Linked DNA regions of Homo sapiens: region 2 is linked to region 1. Evidence: fine-mapped expression QTL. Tissue or cell type: whole blood. Region 1 holds a variant in brackets; the other region holds the start of a gene. All regions are shown on one strand. Distances are between the middles of the regions.

Region 1 (8,102 bases):
CTATAATCCCAGCACTTTGGAAGGCTGAGGTGGGCGGATCACGAGATCAGAAGATCGAGACCATCCTGGCTAACACAGTGAAACCCCATCTCTACTAAAAATACAAAAAAAATTAGTTGGGTATGGTGGCAGATGCCTGTAGTCTCAGCTACTCTGGAGGCTGAGGCAGGAGAATAGCATGAACCTGGTAGGCAGAGCTTCCAGTGAGCCTAGATCGCGCCACTGCACTCCAGCCTGGGTGACAGAGCGAGATTATGTCTCAAAAAAAAAAAAGATACCCGGCAGGATGCACTGTGACATCGGTCTCCTCTGCATCACCGTGAGTCACCAAACAGCACCCTAGATTGGGTGCATGGGAGGCACGTGTGGTATGCACCTTTCCCTTCTGCATTCTAGCTGAGCCGCTTCCCTGGGCGGGAGCAGACTTTGCAGGATGCAGCAGGAGGCCAAGTCTCACTGGAATCCATGTAAAATGTCTCCAGCCAGGGCTGCCCTTACTGCTTCAGAAAGGCGCAGCAGCCCTCTGCCATAGGCTCCTTCCCAGGACTGAGTAACTGGCAGGTTCAGACCCATTCAATCCTATGGAAGGAATATCCAGAATGGCAGAGGGCTGGAGAGAAACTAAGTTGAGCTGGACATTGCCTGAGATTGGGCCAACTACAGGAACCTCTCCATCCCCTCACACCTGGGACGGACCAAGGTGAACATCATTCTAGAATGTAATGGAAGCTGCCCTTTGGCTTTTCCAAAGGCAAAGGGTTTAGATACAGAATGTAAATCACCAAGGGCTGGGCATGGTGGCTCATGCCTGTAATCCCCAGCACTTTGGGAGGCCGAGGCGGGCAGATCAGTTGAGGTCAGGAGTTCGAGACCAGCCTGACCAACATAGAGAAACCCTGTCTCTACTAAAAATACAAAATTAGCCAGGCCTGGTAGCGCATGCCTGTAATCCCAGCTACTCAGGAGGCTGAGGCAGGAGAATCGCTTGAACCCAGGAGGTAGAGGTTGCAGTGAGCCAAGATCATGCCATTGCACTCCAGCCTGGGCAACAAGAGCGAAACTCTGTCTCAATTAAAAAAAAAAAAAAGAATATAAATCACCAAATAAATGTTAATTGCTCCCTACCCATTAAAGTTACACTTCCTTACCTATAAAGACACCCTCCCCCTCCACATACTCACGAAAAGTCTGTTGGGGAGGAGAAGCATATTGTGCTATAAAACACCTGTTGCATCAGATGTACAAAGTGCCTTTCGTTTTAGTCTCTTTTCAGCAATCTGGCCACCATTCAGGGGGGCCTGACTGGGTGACAGATGAATGGGAAGGTTCTGACCTGTTTTGAGTCCGGCTCCCACCTTGCTGTCACATATCAGAATGTCACTGCTCTGAGTGTGTCCCAGGGCCTTGGAGGTGGGCCGTGAGGTGCCGAGAAGCAGCCGCAGCCTCCTCCCTCCACCTATCCCAGAGCGATGCTGGTGATTTCAAACGTATCTGTCCTATCAGTAAATAAACAAGATGCAGATCTCTGGTATGACAGCTCCATGATGAGGCAATCTGTGAGTTTCATGTCTCTAGACTTGCACAGATATTAAGAAAAACAAGTTTATGGCCGGGCACAGTGACTGACGCCTGTAATCCCAGCACTTCGGGAGGCCGAGGTGGGCGGATCACAAGGTCAGGAGATCGAGACCATCTGGCTAACGCGGTGAAACCCCGTCTCTACTACAAATACAAAAAATTAGCTGGGTGTGGTGGCGGGTGCCTGTAGTCCCAGCTACTCAGGAGACTGAGGCAGGAGAATGGCGTGAACCTGGGAGGCGGAGCTTGCAGTGAGCCGAGATCGCGCCACTGCACTCCAGCCTAGGCGACAGAGCAAGACTCCGTCTCAAAAAAAAAAAAAGAAAAACAAGTTTATTTGCATGGTGGTTCAGGACTTCCAGAGAAAGCATGGGAGTCAGTAGGAGGTAAAGTAGATAAAAAGTAGGAGGTCGAGGCTGCAGTGAGCCATGACTGTGCCACTGTACTCTAGCCTGGGTGACAGAATGAGACCCCATCTCAATAAAAATAAATAAAGATTCTAAAAAGATTTTATTTTCTGCCTAAAATGTGGACAAAGTACTAAAAGCACACATATTCATTTAAAACCATGGCAAAGGGGCATAAGCATGTAATCCACCAATGCCCAGTGAACTTAAGGGGAAGGCATATGGTCAGAATCACAACACTGCACTCTGGCCCCATCCCCGCCCCCAATTCACCATGTCATCTTAGACCACTAACCCTCACCAAGCCTCGGGTCCCTCATCTATTAAAAAAGAAAAAGAATTCAAACTCAGCTTGCACAGATAAGTTCCTGAGTTTATAGCTTCCTGGGCCCTGCCCCAGGTGGGACCTGAGAATGGGAGTCTTACCCAGGCTGCCCTCCCCCCGCTGCTTTGGGGTATATCTGCTCTCTTTCAGCTCTTCTGTGACTGTAGCCTCTTCTCAACTAAGTTTCAAACCACCCCACTCTTGTTCTTAGGGTGTTAGAATGCCCTGTTGATTAAGTAAAGCAATGCTGCAGAAAAGCCAAAAACCAAAGGACTTTAATGGCTCCCAGAAGAAAGAAGTAATAAAAATCCAGAGCAAAGGAGGAAGAAAAAAGAAGGAAAATGTATTTATCTCTGAATTCTAAGAAGAAAGTCATCCCATTGTTCCCGAAACACCAGGCGTTTGGTCTAGGTCCTGCTGCTCACCGCACAGAAAGCCAATCTCTGAGATAAGTATTTTCAAGGAAGAAGGCTTTAATCAGGTGCTGCAGAGAAGATGGGAGCTCAGTCTCAAATCCATCTCCCTGATCGACTAAAGCTAGGGGTTTACATAGCAAGGAAGAAATGTAACAATGTGTAACAAAATAAGAACTAGGGAGGGGCAAGGGGGCATCTGGTGCCCCCATCTGGTAAGTTTCAGTTCTCTGATCCCATTTTTTAGGGGCCTGAAGGTCCTTTCCTGAGAAAGGAACTTAGATAAAACAAATACAAGTTTCAAGCTTTAACAGCAGAAGGATCAATGTCTACGTTTATCCAAAAGAACAGTCTATGGGCCCATTTCACCATGTAGTCCCCGTGAGTATCTAACAATTTTTATTTATTTTTGAAACAAGGTCTCATTCTGTCACCCAGGCTGGAGTGTAGTGGCACAATCACAGCTCCCTGCAGCCTCGACCTCCTCAAGCGATCCTCCCACTTCAGCCTCCCAAGTAGCTGGGACTACAGGCACGTGCCATCACACCTGGTCTCACTATGTTGCCCACGCTGATCTCAAACTCCTGGTCTCAAGCGATTCTCCTGCCTCAGCCTCCAAAGGTGCTGGGATTACAGGCGTGAGCCACCACGCCCAGCCTTCTAACAATTTTTTGTTTTTAGACAGAGTCTTGCTGTGTCGCCCAGGATGGAGTGCAGTGGCACAATCTCAGCTCACTGCAACCTCCACCTCCTGGGTTTAAGCAATTCTCCTGCCTCAGCCTCCCAAGTAGCTGAGATTACAGGCATGCACCACCATGCCTGGCTAATTTTTGTATTTTCTTAGTAGATATAGGGTTTTGTCATGTTGGCCAGGCTGGTCTCGAACTCCTGACCTCAGGTGATCCACCTGCCTCGGCCTCCCAAAGTGCTGGGATTACAGGCGTCAGCAACTGCACCCAGCCCTTCTAAGAATTTTTAAATTCTTCCCTCAGATATCCCAATA[A/G]GAGAGAAACAGGCTTCAGCATAACCAGATCCTGGAGATGCCCAGATCTAAAGTGGATCAGATTCCCTCATCCACATCCATCTAGTCTATAACCATCTGGTCTGTCACTCTGGATTACATTCAGTATAGAGCCACACTGTCCATTTTGGAACCATCTCAAGCTACAGGAAACCATAGAAAGAGAAATGCAAATTTTAGAAAATATGTATTTAGCATAATACCTAATCTTAAAGACCAAAATTAAAATCAGAAAACTAATACTACCTCTACCTACCTCTTATTCTCTCCAAATTATGCCTTGGATAACTCCTTTTCAGCTGCTAAATTCCTGGACAGGTGACAGTAGAGAGAATTACAGGACAGGCTTGGGATAAGGAAACCTCCACATTGAATCTTCCCTGCATAGCTTCCTGATTTGGTGTGAAGTAAATTCTCAGATCATAACTTACCCCTTTGCAAGTGAGAATGTCAAGATTCATTCCAAGGGTCAATGGAAATTGTTTTTGATTATTTGATTACCTTAACACTTCACCACCACCACCTCCATACATGTGTACATTCTAGATTCTTTTTGTTTCTGGCCAGTGGTGCCTCTGCTGACAAAAATAACATTACCTTCTCTGTTAGTTCCTAAGACAGCATGAAAACTCAACTGCATGGCCAGGTGTGGTGGCTCACGCCTGTAATCCCAGCACTTTGAGAGGCCAAGGCAGGTGGATCACCTGAGGTCAGGAGTTCGAGACCAGCGTGGCCAACATGGTGAAACTCTGTCTCTACTAAAAATACAAAAATCAGCCAGGTGTGATGGAACATGCCTATAATCCTAGCTACTTGGGAAGCGGAGGCTTAGGCAGGAGAATCGCTTGAACCCGGGAGGCAGAGTTTGCAGTGAGCTGAGATGGTACCACTACACTCCAGCCTGGGGGACAGAGCGAGACTCTGTCTCAAAAAAAAAAAAAAAAAAAACCTCAATTGCATTAGGCCCGATGGAGCCACACACCACCAGCAGTGCCAGCAGTGCCAGCAGTGCCAGCAGTGCAAGAGGCAGGCCGCAGGGCCTAGATGTGCACAATCACCTCAGATCACTGTGTCCTTCATTTTCTTTATAGAGCTCCCTCACTTCCTTTTGAAACACTGAGGCCAGCAGGTTTCCCAGCAGGGGGCCCCGTGTCAGCAAAGGACATTTGACCCCAGTTTTCTAGATATCCTCAAGACCTCTCAGCTTAGGTTACAACTGACAAGAAGCTAATATTTGTTTTATATTGATTAATATTGCATGTGTCCCTCATCTTTCCTCCCTACCTCAAGTATATTCTGCTTCAGGTGTTTATCTGAGTGGCTGCTAAGGCTCTCCTCCTCCTGTACAAACGTGCCCAGCTGAGGCAGGAGGCAGGAGACAAGAACCTAAGGCCAATTTGCGCTGCCTTCCTAGAACTGAATCAAAACGAAAACCCCACCTCTCCACGCCCAAGTAAGGAAAGGATCAGAAGCTACTCCCTTTGCAACCCCCCCTTTCCACTGCCTCACAGATGAAAAATGGAAAGTACCTCTGATTGGTCCCCTCCCACAACCAATCTGACTGGTCGTGGGGCAGGTTTCATTTACATAGGGTGTAACCAAGTAACCAATGGGAAACCTCTAGAGCATATTTAAACCCCAGAAAATTCTGTAACCAGGGCTCTTGCTGCTTGCTCGAGCCTACTCCCACTCTGTGGAGTGTACTTTTGTTTCAATAAATCTGTACTTCTGTTTTGCTTCTTCTCTCGTTGCTTTCTTTGTGCATTTTGTCCAATTCTTTGTTCAAAATGCCAAGAACCTGGACAATTCAGTCAGGTTACCTCAACCTGTTACCCTCAACCAGTACTGGTTACCCTCAACTGGTAACACAGGTACTCCTTCGGCCCCTACTTCTCCAGGGGCTGCTTCTCTCCATCTTCATTGTTCTAGCCATTCTCCTCTGTTCCTCACCACGTACTCATCAGCTTCTCGGCTATGGGGCCAGCACTGCACTGCACAGATCTCAACTCTCAGGTCTCCAGGTGCCAACATTGCTATTAATAGATCCAATAGCCTTTTCTCATCACCATGCTCCTTGGCTTTTTGGTTTTCTGTTTTGTTTTTGAAACAGGGTCTCACTCTGTTGCTCAGGCTGGAGTGCAATGGCACAATCATAGCTCACTGAGCCTCCAAACTCCTGGGCTCAAGTGATCCTCCCGCCTAGGCCTTCCAAAGTGCTGGGATTATAGGCATAAGTCACCACGCTTGGCTTCTTGGCTTTTTGAAAGCTCTTGGCCCTGCTAAACACCCTTTTCTTCCTAAAACTCTCTCAACCGTTCACCTCTGTGGCTCTAATCACAACACTTTCTTTTTTTTTTTTTTTTTTTTGAGAAGCAGTCTCACTCTGTCGCCCAGGCTGGAGTGCAGTGGCGCGATCTCGGCTCACTGCAAGCTCCACCTCCCAGGTTCACGCCATTCTCCTGCCTCAGCCTCCTGAGTAGCTGGGACTACAGGCGCCCGCCACCACACCCGGCTGATTTTTTGTATTTTTAGTAGAGAGGGGGTTTCACCGTGTTAATCTGGATGGTCTCAATCTCCTGACCTCGTGATCCACCTGCCTCGGCCTCCCAAAGTGCTGGGATTACAGGCGTGAGCCACTGCGCCCGGTCTAATCACATCACTTTCTGACCATACATCCTCTCTCTCCCTCAGTGCCTTCTGATTGAGGACTGCTCTGTATGATACAGAGTTCAACACAGCCATTTTATAAAGTCTGTCAAAATAGCCAAGTCAATGGCAGAGGATCATTATTTCATCCTTGGCTGTCTTTCCCATTCCTTTCCCACTCCTTCGCCTTACCTCTCACTCTCACTCCATTTCTCATCCTCAGCCTATTCCTTATTCTCATCCCATTGCTGATCCCAATGTCTGATGTGCCCGGCAGGGTTTACACCCCTTCTGAGAGTTATTCTGCATCACTTATTTTTCAAAAATGTCACTACCTTCAACCCTTAACCTCTGTGTTGTCATCCCATGCCCACCTGTGCTGCAGGCTCTCTTTCCATGGATGGTCCACATCACCTCACACTCCGGTGTCTGAAAATGCAGTCATTTTCATTGATTTAGTACATTTACTTCACTTTCAAAAGGCATGAAGAGGTCAGGCATGGTGGTTCATGCCTGGAATCCCAGCACTTTGGGAGGCTGAAGCAGGCGGATCACCTGAGGTCAGGAGTTCAAGACCAGCCTAGCCAACATGATGAAACCCCATCTCTACTAAAAACACAAAAATTAGCCAAGTGTGGTGGCATACACCTGTAATCCCAGCTACTGGGGAGGCTGAGGCAGGAGGATTGCTTGAACCCAGGAAGTGGAGGTTGCAGTAAGCCAAGATTGTGCCACTGCACTGTAGCCTGGGTGACAGAATGAGACTCCATCTCAAAAAAAAAAAAAAAAAAAAAAAAAAAAAAAACCTTGAAAATTTATTAATTAAATATAATACAAAATAGGACAGTTTTCCATAGAAAAGAACTAGAAGCAGCTGCCAGAATAAGTGTCTTTCTCCCTTCTTAGAACAACAAAAAAAATGACAATGCTCACATTTGACATTTGTGCATTGGATTCCCTTCTGAATGAATAAAAAGGAAAGTGTTTGATATAATTCCTGATGGGTGTGTGTTGTTTTTCATGCCACCGTTTGTCATTGTGGTTTCCCATTTTACTGTCATAACTGGACAGACATTTTTGTAAATTCAATAAAAATACAAAAAAAAAAAAGGTTTTAAAAAACTGGAAGCACATGGGTAGAAGTTACCAAAAGCTTCCTGACCGTGAAGTAGATCAGCTGGCAAAGAAGCGAGTTGCTGTCACTGGAGTGGTTCAGATAGAGGTTAGGGGGGAGCATCACAGAATGTCATAAAGGGTATGTTGGTACTGGGTGGTAAATTGGAGCAGGTGACCTGGGAGTCGACCCTAACTCTCAGGATTTTGTGATCCTCTGACAATTGGAAACAGAACCACAACAGAGCTCACCTAAAGAGAACAGAGAGGCTGGGCACGGTTGTTCATGCCTGTAATCCCAGCACTTTGGGAGGCTGAGGTGGGTGGATCACGAGTTCAGGAGTTCAAGACCAGTCTGGCCAAGATGGTGAAACTCCATCTCTACTAAAAATACAAAATTAGCCAGGCACAGTGGCGGGTGCTTGTAATCCCAGCTACTCGGGAGGCTGAGGCAGGAGAATTGCTTAAACCCAGAAGGCAGAGGTTTCAGTGAGCCGAGATCGTGCCACTACACTCCAGCCTGGGCGACAGAGTGAGACTCTGTCTCAAAAAAAAAAAAAGAGAGAGACTAGACAGGCCGGGCGTGGTGGCTCACGCCT
Region 2 (8,102 bases), 37 kb before region 1:
TTATGTAACCCTAGTTAACTCTGAGAAGCCCCATCTCTAAATACTGTAACATTGGAGTTAGGGCTTCGACATATGAATTTGGTCGGGGACACATTCGGCCCATAACACTGGAGAAATACACTGGACTTCACTCTGGGAAGGGAAGCCACTGAGGAAAGCCAAAAAGGGAGAAAGGTGTGCTAAAGTGCTATCCAAAGAGCAGTTGGAAGTTTAGATCTAGGACTCAGTAGAGAGGTCTGGACTAGAGAGGTTTGCGAGTTGTTGGGTGATTGAGCCCATGGGCATAAGTGAAACTGCCCAGGGATGGAGTGTATAAGAAAAAAGGACCATGTCTGGATGGGAAGGATGATCCCTGAGAGCTTAGCCTAAGTCAGAAGGAGCAGCTGAGCTGGAGGAGAAGGTGAAGTAGGGGTAGAACAGAGCCTGGGTGTCTGCAGAAGCAGAAATGAGAGGCTCAGAACTGAAGATCCACTATTCAGATATCACTTCCAGGAATTGTAGGGAAGGCCTTTAATGGGCCAGGACTTCCAAGTGGCCACGGCTACTTAGAGGTAGTGTGTCAGAGGGCCAGGTACTAACAGTTAAGGGGGCTAGCCAAGGGGAAGGAAAGAAAAAGGAACACATTTTAATGGATCAGGCCCTACTGCAAAGGCATTTGTGTGTTTTTCGTTGGTTGGTTGGTTGGTTTGGCTGGTTGTTTTTTTAGAGACAGGATCTTGCTCTGTTGCCCCAACTGGAGTGCAGTAGCCTGATCATAATTCACTAACTTCAAATTCTTGGGCTCAAGCAATCCTCTTGCCTCTGCCTCCTAAGTAGCTAGGACTATAAGTGTAAGCCACTGCGCTTAGCTAATTTTTTTATTTTTTGTAGAGAGGGTCTCACTATGTTGCCCAGGTTACTCAAACTCTTGGCCTCAAGCAATCCTTGCCCTCCCAAATGCCTTGGTTTCCCAGAGTGCTGGGATTACAGGCGCGAGCAACTGCATCCGGTCAAAAGGCATTGTTTTAACTGCTTCCTTAGGCACATTATCTAATATTCACAGCCACCTTTACTCTGCACATTGGCTAATTATCCTCATTTTAGCCATGAGAGATGAGAGAGTCATGAGAGAACTGAGACTCAGAGAGGTTAGGTAACTTGTCCAAATTCATATAGCTGGGAAGAGAAAGGTCTAGGATTCAAAGCTGGCTCTGTCTTGACTCCAGAGCCTATGTCCTGTTCACTATACCACACTGCTTAGGGACCAAGAAAAAGGTCTGAGAAGCTAAGGGAAGAGTACACTACAGCAAACTCAAATGCTTTTGGGAGCAAGGCAGGTAACAAAAATGCATGAAGGCCTAACATGAAGTAATGATGCTAAGGTGTTTATTACATTCCTATCCTAGTTGTATTCCCTCTTATTTATTTATTTTAATTTTTTTGAGACAGAGTTTTTGCTCTGTCCCCCAGGCTAGAGTGCAGTGGTGTGATCTTGGCTCACTGCAACCTCCCCGTCCCAGGTTCAAGCGATTCTCCTGCCTCAGCGTCCACAGTAGCTGGGATTACAGGTGTGTGCCACCACACCCAGCGAAGTAGAGATGGGGTTTCACCATGTTGGCCAGGCTGGTGTTGAACTCCTGTCTTGAACTCCTGACCTCAAGTGATCTGCTGGCCTTGGCCTCCCAAAGTGCAGGGATTACAGGTGTGAGCCACTGCGCCTGGCCTGTATTCCCTTTTAAAACAGAGCACAGAGCAGGCAAAATAACCAAATTAAACAAAGCCTTGGGCTGCCAGCCATGGGATACTGTATAGTCCTGATGCTGAGATATCAGTTAAGGGAAGGACCAAAAAGTATTCATGGTGAAGCAGTTTCAGTGGGGTTCAGGGAGCATAATACCAGTTGCAATGAGGTGGGGAGTGAGGATGTTAAGGAGGTTCCAGTTGTGAGTGTTGTCAACTCGTTCAAAACACTTCACTGGGAAGGAAAGGAAGGAAAACAGACTAGCAGGGATGGAAGGAGAATGTTAATATGGGAAGGACTTGGGCTCAGTTATGGCAGGACAAGACTTTTCAGTGGTGTGGTAATGAGGAAGAGGCAGCCTGCTGACAAGTTCAACTGGACTGGGGGAGAGGAGGTGGCCAGGTGCAGGAGATGGCTTTAAAAAGGTAGTTGGCCGGGTATGGTGGCTCTCACCTGAAATCCCAACAACTAAGGAGTCTGAGGTGGAAGAATCACTTGAGGCTAGGAGTTCTAGGCTGCAGTGAGCCACCAGGGTGCCACTGCATTCCAACCTTGGGCAACAAAGTAAGACCCCTATCTCTTTAAAAAAAAAAAAAAAAAAAAGGTAGCTGGAGCCTGTGGAGAGCCTGGAATGCCATGCCAAGGCATCTAGACTGTGATCTGGCAAAGAGTAGGAAACCACTGAAGGGATGTGTCATGTTGACAGTGATGCTGGCCGGGCGCAGTGGCTCATGCCTGTAATCCCAACACTTTGGGAGGCCGAGGCGGGCAGATCACCTGAGGTCAGGAGTTCGAGACCAGCCTGGCCAACATGGTGAAACCCCATCTCTACTAAAAATACAAAATTAGCCGGGCATGGTGCCCTGGTCCATGCCTGTAATCCCAGCTTACTCAGGAGGCTGAGGCAGAAGAATCGCTTGAAACCAGGAGGCGGAGGTTGCAGTAAGCCGAGATCGTGCCATTGCACACCAGCCTGCGCGACAAGAGTGAAACTCCATCTCAAAAAAAAAAAAGTGATGTCTTCTGACATTTAGCTTAGCAGCCAGTGCAAGGTAGAAGAGAGAAAAGAACAGTGATACAGAGGAACATAGCAATGCAGACAGAAAAACAAATGAAGGGATGAATGTAAGAAAGGTGTTGGAGGAAAAAGCATAATATGATGACTGATAAAAGACCCTGGGAAACAGATTTGGAAGCCAAGGCCCAAGTTTCAAGTTTGAGTAGCTGGAGGGAAAGATAATTAGTAGGTTTTGGAAGTACTGAAATTTACAGAAATGGTTGTTCATCAGAGTAAAAATATACAGCAGATGGCAAAAAGTAATCCTGGAGCTTAAGATGGAGGTAAGGAAGGGAGTCGCTGCCCTCAAAGAGAAATGGTTGGGGCCGGGCGTGATAGCTCACGCCTGTAATCTCAGCACTTTGGGAGGCCCAGGCGGGCAGATCACCTGAGGTCAGGAGTTCCAGACCAGCCTGGCCAACATGGTGAAACCCCGTCTCTACTAAAAATACAAAAATTAGCCGGGCATGGTGGCGGGCGCCTGTAATCCCAGCTACTCGGGAGGCTGAGGCAGGAGAATCGCTTGAACCCTGAAGGCGGAAGTTGCAATGAGCCGAGATGGCGCCACTGCACTCCAGCCTGAGCGACAAGGGCAAAATCCGTCTCAAAAAAAAAAAAAAAAGAAAAAAGAAATGGTTGGGAGGCCTTCGGAACAGCGTCGAGGAGGGAACTTCCCAGAGCCCCCAGGCGCATCCTCTGGGAACTGGACACACGGGGACGGACGGGACTGGTTTGCTTCATGGAGTATGAAACCAGGAGGGGCTTCACTTCAAGTAAACTTTTGGGAGGCGATGCAAACGACTCAGGACTTCTGATCCTTCCCTCGTCTAAAAGAAAAGTCAGTTACCATTTTTATTGAGTGCTTTCGGGGCCTTTCCATGATCTGACTGATTCCTCTCAGCCGCCCTGTGATGTGAGTGCCAGCTCCATGTTACGTAAGAGGAAGCCAAGGCTCAAACCCTGCCCGAAGTCACACAGCAAGAAATCACGAGCCGTGATTCCAACCCAGGTCCGTCTGACCCGAGCCTGCTCTAATGCCGTTCTGCCTGGGCTTTCCTCTGTTATAGGAACCTGAGGCCCCGCGCCAGCGGCCGGGGTCCCAAGCGCCGGGCTGGCTGTGTCGAGACCACCCCCAGCCCTGGCCCGGCCCTCGCCCTTTCGAGGGAAACCTACTCTCAGAAGCACAGCTCCCCAGCCGCGCCCAACGCCGCGCCGGCCTCTGGCTCGGACCAATCCCCCCGGGACGGTCCACCACCCAGACCAATTAGCTCCCGTCTTCAGGGCACCTCCCACCAAACCGCCTTCTGATTGGCTCGCTCTTCCCGTCACGGCGTTGCCCCAGCAACCGGACTATTGGGACGCTGCGGCCTGGCCTTCAGGCCACTGGCTACCGAACCCCGGGGCTCTTCACCAGTCCAGCTCGTTTCCAGCACCATGTCGGTGCGGACGCTACCGCTGCTCTTCTTGAACTTGGGCGGGGAGATGCTTTACATCCTCGACCAACGGCTGCGGGCCCAGAACATCCCGGGAGACAAGGCCCGCAAAGGTGAGAGGCCCCCGGCCCGCTCAGCCAGACCCGCAGCCAGCAGCCCGGCCCTCTCATCATCGCCCTAACACCCACAGCCAGACCCGCACCCCTACACACTTCACTCTTATAACCAGGGACCTTTCTTACAAGCCACATCCATTTGGAGCCCCTCGGGAGTCAAATCCCCCCAAAAGCTTTTTTCACAGCAGAGGAACTTAATACTCCCAGTGGACACTAGGGTGCCTGACCTCCCTAATTTCCCCATCTCTTCAAATGGGAGAGGTGATTTCCCAGTCTCTCTTGTCAATCAGTGCCTTCCAAATGTAGGAGTCCCAGCTGCCCACCATCTAGTATCATACCCCTTGCTAGTCCAAGCATCCTCTTTACCCCCAAGGAACAGGTTCTGATTTTTTTTTTTTTTTTTTTTTTTTTTTTTTTTTGAGACAGGGTCTCGCTCTGTCGCCCAGGCTGGAGTGTGTGGCACGATCTCGGCTCACTGCAACCTCTGCCTCCTGGGTTCCAGCGATTCTCGTGCCTCAGCCTCCCAAGTAGCTGGGATTACAGGCATGCACCACCACACCCAGCTAATTTTTGTATTTTTAGTAGAGATGGGGTTTCACCATGTTTCCCAGGCTGGTCTTCAATTCCTGGACTCAAACGATCTGCCCCCCTCGGCCTCCCAAAGTGCTGGGATTATAGGCGTGAGCCACCGCGTCCAGCCCAGGTTCAGATTCTTAATTTCTTTATGGTAGTATCTTCCCACATAAGCTGGAGATTGGTCTTACTCATCTCAGAAGTATTTCTAGAAATTTGGTGTTCTAAAATAATATAGATAAATATGAAAAAAATAAGAAAGTTATAAATCTCCTCACAAGTGTTGGAGGGGAATACAATTGTGAAAATAATTATATGAGAGCTTCGAAAATGCAAAATCTGCCTCCCATGGACACCACACTAATCCCCAGAAAAATGACGACTCAGAACACTCTGCCACTCTGTTCCTTTTCCTCTTTTCCTCCCTTCTCGGCAAACAACTTGCTTATACCAAATTTCCTAGGATTAAGTATGAAGGAAATATTATATTTCAAAGTGGAGGAGGAAAAGTTGAAAAGGCAATTGACATGGCCGCCAATTAAAACATTCTCTCCATTAATCTTTGTATGCTCAATTGATGTTCAACATACATATTCAGATGCTAAGCATACATATTCAGATATTAACTATTGTGTGTGTGTGACTGAGTGCAAGTCCATGCATAAAGAGCTAAAAATAACTCCCTATAACATACCCCCTCCATTCATTCTGCACATTGCCGCCAATGAGCTTTCTAAAATGTGTATCTGTCCAAACTTGCCCCTGCCTAAAACCCTTTGTCAGCTTTCCACTGCCATCTGGGTTAAGACCAAGTCCTTGCACAGGCCATTTCAGGGCCCTTCCTTATCTGATCTCTGTCTTCCTCTGCAGTCCCTTCTTCCACCACTGCCTGCCTCCTGTTTCCCAATAATACCAAACTGCTCATAGATCTCCGCTTAAACCATGTTTGTTCGTATTTCTGTGCTAGTAATTCCCATCCCTACATTCTTCCCCTTCAATCCTGCATTATTCGGCTTAAGAATCATCTCCTTCAGGAATCCTCCCCATATGCAGAAAGGGCCTGTGCATGCTCTCATAGCAGCCTGTGCTCCCATAGCACCCCATGCCTGCTCCTCAGTACCTTACCACTGGCCATGCTATACTGAAATGATCTGTGTATATGTCTATCTCCCGCTTGATTGTCTTATTCATCTTTGTACTCCAGCACCTACCATAATTCCTAGACCAGAATAAATTAGTGATCACAAAATGTTTTTTGAACTGATTATCTAAATTGGCAGTTTTATATAGCATTGTCATTTTTCCTTTGAGAGGGTTCTGTTTTCCTTGGTGCCTGTGTGATCTGATTTCATTCAGGCTAGTGGCACCAATGAGGTGACATGCTGGAGTCCTCAGACTGGTAGGTAGTCTGCATCTTGGAAGATAGTGTAAATTAGCAATTAAGAACATACTCTCTAGAGTCTTACAGACCTGGATCCCAATTCCAGCTTTACCATTTAACTAATTGCATGCCCTTTGGGTGTAACCTCTATAAACCTGTTTCTCCATAAAATGGTAATAATACATATATGTTAAAGCAAAGTTGTAAGGATTGAATGAAATAATGTATTTAATATGTTTAACACAATGAGTAATAGGTATCTTTCAAGAGGAGGTCTGGACAAGGCCCTTGGAATACTAGAGGACAGCTTTACCTTTAGGAGTTATAGCCTTTTTTCTGCTTTTGCTAAATATGGTTTTGGGAGTTTCGGCCATCTTTAGTAATTTACATTCGCACACTCATTCATTCCACAGATTTTGACTGAGTGTCAAACACTATGTGAGATACTATATGGAGCCTGATGCAGCCCTTCTGGACATTCACTGGAGGTAGGGCTATTGATCAGTCCACTCCAGTAACTGATTCTAGTGACAGCAATCAACAATAAAACAATGAAAAATCAAGCACTTACTTTGTACCAAGGGCTCCTCTTAAACACCTTAATCCTCCCAACTATTGTAACACATAGGTAATATTACTATCCCCATTTTACAGATGGAGAAACTAAGACTAATTTGCCCAGAGTTACATGGCTGGTAGGAGGAAAAGTAAAGGATTTGAGCCCAAGGCATCAGGCTCCAAAGTTCATACTCAGCCAATGTCCCCTTACTATAACCAATGTCCCCTCATATAACCAATGTCCTCATACTCAGCCAATGTCCCCTTACTATAACCACTTAGTCCCCTTACTATAACCACTATACTCTGCTGCCATACCTTGGGGACTATATCAGAATCTTAGTGGGGGTTGGTAGGTCAGGAGGAGAGGGAGGAGTCTGAAAAATATATATCCAATATACCCACTGATTTTATCAAATAAATGACAAAATAGTTGGCTGTTGGAGATCTGTAGAAGATAGAGTGAGAAAACAGGGTAGAGAGCATAGGATTCAACGGGCTGAGAAATACTCATGTCTTCCACCTATTCCACCATTTAAAGTTGTTGTGGCCACAGGAGCGAGAGCCCCTGTAACAGATCCCTGTACACAGGAGCCTATAAAACACTAGACTTGGTAAACTAGTCCTCTTCGAAGCTTTGAGTGGAAATCATATTTCTTCTAGATGTTTTCATTATCTTATACGACTAATTGGTCTCCTGGAGGCCATCCCTGTTCCCACAAGGCCAAGGCAGATGTTGCAGCTTCCCCCACAACGCAGCCTCTAGTTTAGCATTCAACAGAAAGGAAGTGCTCTCTCTATGAGGCAACTATCGAGTGTTGCATATTGAATGTTGTCTCCTGTTTAAAGCAATGGCGAGAATAATAAAAGCTACCTTTGCCTCTTAAAAATATTTATAAATAAGACCTTATTATCTTTTGCTTACATTCCTCATTTTACAGGAGAGGAAACTGAGGCATGTGGCCACAAAGTGATTTTTCCAAGACATGCCAATCACAGTGTAGCACAAGCAACCAAAGGGCAGTGAGACTCTGGTTTTATTTTTCTAGTTCCAGTTTAACGACTAGCTCTGAATAGCCTTGGGCCTGCCCCCACTCAAAACAGAACTAAAGTGGAGTTGTCACAAATAAGTCATCTGGAGAAATAATAGAAAAAGAGGGTGTTTCTCTTCCCTGTATTCTCAGGAGGAAAGGAGTAGGGGAGCACACAGCACTACAGAGACCCCTGCTGGCGTTCAGCCTGCCTGCCTTCGGGAGCATCTGCC

Evidence for each region. PIP is the estimated chance that this variant, and not a neighbour inherited with it, causes the effect.
Region 2: it holds the start of OSCP1, and the variant in region 1 is fine-mapped to the expression of OSCP1 in whole blood (TOPMed, PIP above 0.99). The same link has a PIP of 0.9 or more in sun-exposed skin.

The regions. Positions count from the first base shown.
Region 1 is chr1:36,409,256-36,417,357 of GRCh38, reverse strand. No RefSeq gene overlaps it. Among named protein-coding and RNA genes, the nearest start is that of SNORA63C, 5.3 kb to the left of the region's middle. The variant A/G (reference allele first, on the strand shown) is at 3,727.
Region 2 is chr1:36,446,479-36,454,580 of GRCh38, reverse strand. OSCP1 (organic solute carrier partner 1) reads left to right here and starts at 4,130. Exons shown (of 10, transcript NM_145047.5): 1 at 4,130-4,323. The coding sequence starts at 4,212. LOC107984940 (a long non-coding RNA gene) reads right to left here. Exons shown (of 3, transcript XR_001737976.2): 3 at 5,016-5,123. RefSeq lists a silencer at 3,735-4,004 and an enhancer at 7,919-8,102.